Linked DNA regions of Homo sapiens: region 2 is linked to region 1. The links come from fine-mapping of genetic effects on gene expression. A gene starts in region 1. The other region holds a variant in brackets. All regions are shown on one strand. Distances are between the middles of the regions. Region 1 holds the start of LRMDA (leucine rich melanocyte differentiation associated). Region 2 overlaps LRMDA (leucine rich melanocyte differentiation associated).

Evidence for each region. PIP is the estimated chance that this variant, and not a neighbour inherited with it, causes the effect.
Region 2: its variant is fine-mapped to the expression of LRMDA in whole blood (INTERVAL, PIP 0.96).

Annotation. Positions count from the first base shown.
Region 1 is chr10:75,429,943-75,432,852 of GRCh38, forward strand. It overlaps LRMDA (leucine rich melanocyte differentiation associated), which reads left to right and starts at 1,682. Exons shown (of 7, transcript NM_001305581.2): 1 at 1,682-1,812. The coding sequence starts at 1,783. LOC107984293 (a long non-coding RNA gene) reads right to left here and starts at 1,668. Exons shown (of 2, transcript XR_001747703.2): 1 at 1,580-1,668; 2 at 1-368. RefSeq lists enhancers at 1,490-1,990, 1,991-2,491 and a silencer at 1,632-1,731.
Region 2 is chr10:75,605,463-75,608,372 of GRCh38, forward strand. The region is part of intron 2 of LRMDA (leucine rich melanocyte differentiation associated); the gene reads left to right. Among named protein-coding and RNA genes, the nearest start is that of MIR606, 54 kb to the left of the region's middle. The variant A/G (reference allele first, on the strand shown) is at 1,504.

The DNA of each region.
Region 1 (2,910 bases):
GATTTTAGGTAGGATCTAATTGGGCTTTTAAAATGGTTGCCCTGGGGCTATGTGGAGGAGGCAACAGTAGTGAGAGGGTGTGGAAAGGGGGAAAGATGCCAGCCCACTTTGGTGACATTGGTAGTGTCTGCAGAACAGCCTATGCTCAGATGACCCAGCTGTGTATGGAGGCAGGGGGATGGATGAGATGACCTTCAGTAACCCCCTTCTGGTGGGGGAAGGGAGAGCCGTTCTCCAATCTCATCTTTGAGTCAGCTTGGGCCTGTTTCCACAAGTCCTCTTCCATCTGTCAAAGCCCTTCTAGGAAAGCTGAGCTGAAAGGCAGCTGCGGAGGGCAGAGTGCTGGCTGGGTCCGGGCTCACTTCCTCCTTTTCAGGCAGGAAAAGCAGACAAAAGTGCACAATGGACCAGAGAGGGCGCGTCCAGCAGAGAAGGAGGGAGAAGGCGGGGGAGCTGGTCCTTGGGGCAACAGGCCTGGGAAGGTTCCCTTTGATCCCCTTATCTCTGGAGGGTAAGCTTTCTTTTTTGGCCTGCAGGACCTTTTGTTGCAGCATTTCCTGGAATCCCCCAAAGTAAACACAGTCAAGACTGCATTCTTACTGCTCTACTCTTCTGAGCCTGCTCCTCCCAGCTGAGAGAGGGGCAGGAAGGTCAACCCTCCGAGATCAACACTGCTCATCAAAATGCTGACAAGGGCCCACCTAACAATGTGTTAGGACCGGGGCTGTCTGAGAGACGATGCCAGTTAAGGCTGGGCTGGCTCTTAGCTGCAGCAAGAGTGGAAGATGACAACCAGTTGATATCTGGTAGCTCTGTGCATCCTGGACTTGGAGGCAAGAATAGGCAAGGAGAAAATCTGGATCCTTCCAGAGAATTTCAGAGAAAAACAGGCATGGGTTTAGGGAGTTACCTGCCCACTGGGCCTACTTTCATCCAGACAGGAGGCCCGTGGCCAGCTCTTCCAGGTGGGGATGGGGTGGGTGGGGAACAGCGAATAACCCCACTGATAACTTCAAGCCTCACAAATCTCTTGCCCTCTGAGGAGCAGGAGAAGAGAAGCCTGAAATTTGGGGTCACCAGCCAATTATCCTTCCCCAGGGTTTATTATTGTCAACTCTTAGAGGCCACAGGGAAAGGGTGGGGTGGTCTTCACCAAGCCAGCGTTTTATTTATAGGGAAATTCAACCCCCCCAATCCCCCTCCCCTCCTACAAATGGAAACTGGGCCGCACCAGGAGTCCTTCAACCTTCTAACTTTCCCTCTCCCCAGCTTTGATGAGGAGGGGCGTTCAGCCAAGAGGCCCCTCCTCGCTGCAGTTGAGGTCCATTATGTAACCCAGCTTGCGAAATGCAGGAAAGGCCCGGCTGGCTACAGCCCGGCTAACGGCTCAGAAAGGGCGCCCCTGATAGGAATACCCCCACCTCAGGCGTGGCCCAGACAAACGCGATAAAGCTGTGGGCATGGAGTTTTGGGCATTGGGACATCCGGGGGAGGGAGGGGCGCGGGCAGTCGGGGTCAGGCCGCCGTCGGGGCGCGGGGCGCTGCGGGCCACCTGTTGCAGCGGGCGGCCAGGGCTCACCTGCGCGGAGACCGGGCCGAGGGGCGGCGGCGGCGAGCGGCGGAGCTGAGGTCCCCGAGGCTAGCCCGCGCCTCCGGCTTCCGCCGGGTCAGCTGACTGCCCAGTGCGGAACTGTGCGCCCGCCGCGCTCCCCTGCCGCGCTCCCCGCTGCTGCCGCCGCGCCCCCGCGCTCCGTCCCGCGCGCCCGCAGCGTCCTGGCCGCCATGGCCGGGCTCGTGGTGCGTGGAACTCAAGTAAGTCCCGGCCAGCCCCGCCTCCGCCCGGGGCGCAGTCCGCGTGGGGAGGGACAGCGGGGCACAGAGGCTCCCCAGGGCCTAGACACCCCTGTCCCCGCCTCAGGGGGCTGCGTCTGCAGGGGGTGAGCTTCAGGTGCTCAGGCTCGCCCTAGTGGGGCTAGGACAGACCTCGTTTCGGGCCTGGCACACCCCCTTGATGTGCGGGAAGAACACCCGCAAGGTCTCCCGTTCTCCCCACTTCCTTCTGCCCTTAGCGCCTCACTGAGCAGGCCCAGCGGACACAGTGCTGACGGCCCCCGCTGCTTTTGGGGGCCCACAGAAAATGTTCCAATTTCATAATCTGAATTTTAAAAACTTTTGGTCAAAGAATCCATTTTGATAAATCACATTGATATAGTCATCTTTATACCAATGCAGTTGTAATATACAAATTTACTTATTTGTAAATGGAGGAAGGGGTTTATGAAGGCAAAAGTGTCTAGGGTACCCAAAGTCCCAGCACATCCCTGGAGATGAGGGTGCTGGTGGGCCCTGCGCTGAATGGGCTACGCCATAGCCAAAGGCTGATGGAAGGCCACCGACCTCCAGTTCTCTTTCCACACTCGATTTCTTGAACAGGAGTCTGTGATGAATGGCAACACGCCAGTTTCAATCCTGGGTGCCAGACACCCAGTCTCACATGCTTTGAGCTCTGTAGTGAAGCCTCAGGTGTTCATTGTTGGAGGGATGAACCCAGCCACTCTGGGACCAGGTGTCTTTCTTACCTGCTGGAAAAGCCAGTTCTCTGTCTTTAACCTCTTCTCTGCTCTGATGAAGCCAGAGCCCTCTTACTTCCCACCTTTCCCTGCACACCCTGGAGAAATAGTTCTGAGTTTTTGAAGCTCTCCTCTTGGATTGCCTAAGGCAGGTAGTGTCAGGCACAATTGGATTTTGAGATTACTTTGGGCTGAAGGGAATGATTCCTCCTTAGAGGAGATTCTAGGGGTTTTTACAGCTCCTACAGATGCAGTGAGGGCCAACTGTGCAGCCCATTAAACTAGCCGCTGCCTGTTTTCTTTTTTTCCAGAGTCCTGTCGTTTCATCAGGTACACATGT
Region 2 (2,910 bases), 180 kb after region 1:
CTTAACTAAAACATTTTCTTCCCCAGCAGTCGAAGGACAAGAAAAAGAGAAGTTAAACATATTGAAAGGCCACTGATGGAACACTTTGATCTGATTGGAGAGTGACAGCAGGACCCTTGTCCTAACGCATCCTTTCTGGGCACATTCTAACCCCTCCTGCCGCTGCTCTAATGTTAAGAGTGATTGGAATGAAAATAATTATCAGTATTTCAAACATGAAGAAACTGAGTTGCAGAAATTAACTTATCTAAGGTCATGGTGAAGCTGGGACAGAAATCTACATTTCTTTGGCTTGAATGGCCAAGTTCTTTGTGTGAGCAGTTGAAGGAGAAAGAGTGATGGCAGCGGCTGGGAACTGAGTACTCTCTTGCCGTCTCACCTCCTCCCAAATAAGCCTTTCTTTCTTTCTTTTTGAGACGGGGTCTTGCTCTGTCACTCAGGCTGGAGTGCAGTGGCGCAATCATGGCTCACTGCAACCTCTGCCTCCTGGACTCAGATGCTCTTCCTACCTTGGGCTCCCAAGTAGCTGTAACTACAGGTGTGCACCACCATGCTCAGCTAATTTTTGTATTTTTTGCAGAGATGGGGTTTCATCATATTGCCCAGGCTGGTCTTGAACTCCTGGGCTCAAGTGATCCACCCGCCTCAGCCTCCCAAAGTGCTAGGATTACAGGCATGAGCCACTGCGCCTGGCCAACCCTGTTTTCTAATGGTAAGATAAGTAAAGTTCACTGCTGGTAACTCCTTCTCTTAAACCCAACCAAACTGAGGCCAGTCTTAACATGTGCTCTTGCATGGGTATGTCTGTGTTAAGTGTGCGAGAAGGTAGAATATTAACTCTCTTACCATGTAGCTGAATTTCTTCTCTGTTGATTCAGAAATGGAAAGAAAATGTCAGAACTCCTGTAATGCCTTTAAAACAAAGGTGCAGTGAAGGTATTGAAACCAGAAATGAAAATAAGTGGGCTATTTTTAGAACCGAGGTTCTATTTTCTCACTGACTCCCAGTTTCTAGTTAAGGGCAGAGTCCATTCCGGGCTACATGGGCTCTATTGGTGCCCTTCCAGAAGCCTGCATTTCCACTGCACCTTTCTATTTCAAATGTTAAAGGACTGGGGACATTTATAGGAGGTGATGGTCTCTTGGCACAGAAGACTATGTCTCCCAGAGCTGCCGCAGTGTTTTTTCATCCCTTTCTTCTCACTTCTTTTCTGTTTACCTTTGGCTTGAGTAAGTCGATTGGCATGTCTCTTTATATTGGGAAAATTCACTGTTTGCCACAAGCAAGAGAGAAGGCAGAAAGCATGGATACAAACAGATCTGAGGGTATTTTTATGTCTGTATCTCTATTTCTGGGGGCAAGGGACAGTGTTGCCATCCATTAAACATTTATTGTATTAGCAACCTCTGGCCATCCCTGCTAATGGAGGGAAAGGATGTTATGATAATCCAAAATAGCACAAAGTTCCCAGTTTTAACAATTTGATTTGGCAGTGCATTACA[A/G]TAAAATCCCATGAATTCAACCTAATTAGGAAGGAGGCCAGTTTGGATTAGTGAAGCCCAAATGATATTTTATGGAAAATTGATTTTGTAGCTTCCAAATTTATGCAGCCACTTGAATTAGATATCAAAGTCTACAATAGAAATTCCCGGAACAGTTTTAATGACTAGTTAAAAATACTTGGCATTTTATTACAAAATGTTAGAGAAATGGTTACTTCCAAAGTGATCAAGACATTTCAGAACAGTCCTCTTGAGTTTTAACTATCTTCTGAAAGTCTTTCCTATCTTGTATTTATGAACAAGGCCTTTCTTGACATACGATAGGAAAGTAAATGCTTGTTAAAATTTCTTCAAATTTCTAGTCTGTTAGATTCGAATGAATAAAATTGACCTACATGATATTTTCCCCTCAGCAGATTTGTTGTCTTAATTCTGTTATGTTAAAGCTACTACAGATGGGAAGCCATTTCATGTAATACTGTATTTCTTTGGATGTTCTTATATTGAACTATATTTTTCTATTGATACAGGTGATAATTTTGTAGTGCTCTAATTTATAGTGGGCCCTTCCACTTTTAGTTTTTAACACATGATTTTCTCAGGTCCTAACCTTCTTTTCCTCCACATTTAATTATCTGTAAACAAATGCTAAAGCATTACAGATGAGCATCTTTTTCTTTTTAAGGGAGAATCACTGCCTTGTTTTGGTTTTGTAACAACAGCACTGTCTTCATTCCTCATGTGCAAGCAAGTGAGGTGACTTAGTGATTTCCAAATGACTGGCTGCACTGGAACCACCCAAGGAACTTTAAAAAATTGTGATTCCTAGGCCCCACTCCTGGAGATTTTGATTCAGTGGTTTTTTTTTTTTTTTTTTTTTTTTTGGAGCCCAAGATTTTCTATTTTTAACCAGCTCTCTGGTTGCTTCTGTTAGGTATCCAAACATGAAGTGGTTGCCTGGAGTGGTTAAAAATCCATTGTCCATATCCTAGCTATTGTGAATAATGCTGCCATGAGCATGGGAGTGCAGATATCTCTTTGAGATACTGATTTTATTTCCATCAGATATATACCCAGATAACCAAGAGAGGGAAACAACCTAAGTGTCCATTGATGGATGACTGGATCAAAAATTGTAGTGTGTGTATATATATATATATATATACACACACATACACAAAGCAATATTATTCCACCTTAAAAAAAGAAGGGTGTCCTGCCATTTGCAACATGGATGAACCTGGAGAACATGGTGACATAAACCAGACTTAGAAGACTACTGCATGATCTCACTTATATGTGGAATCTAAAATAGTCAACCACATAGAAGCAGAGACTAGAATGGTTGTTACCAGGGGATGGGGGGCCAGGGAAATGGGAAGGTTGTTGGTCAAAGGGTACAAAGTT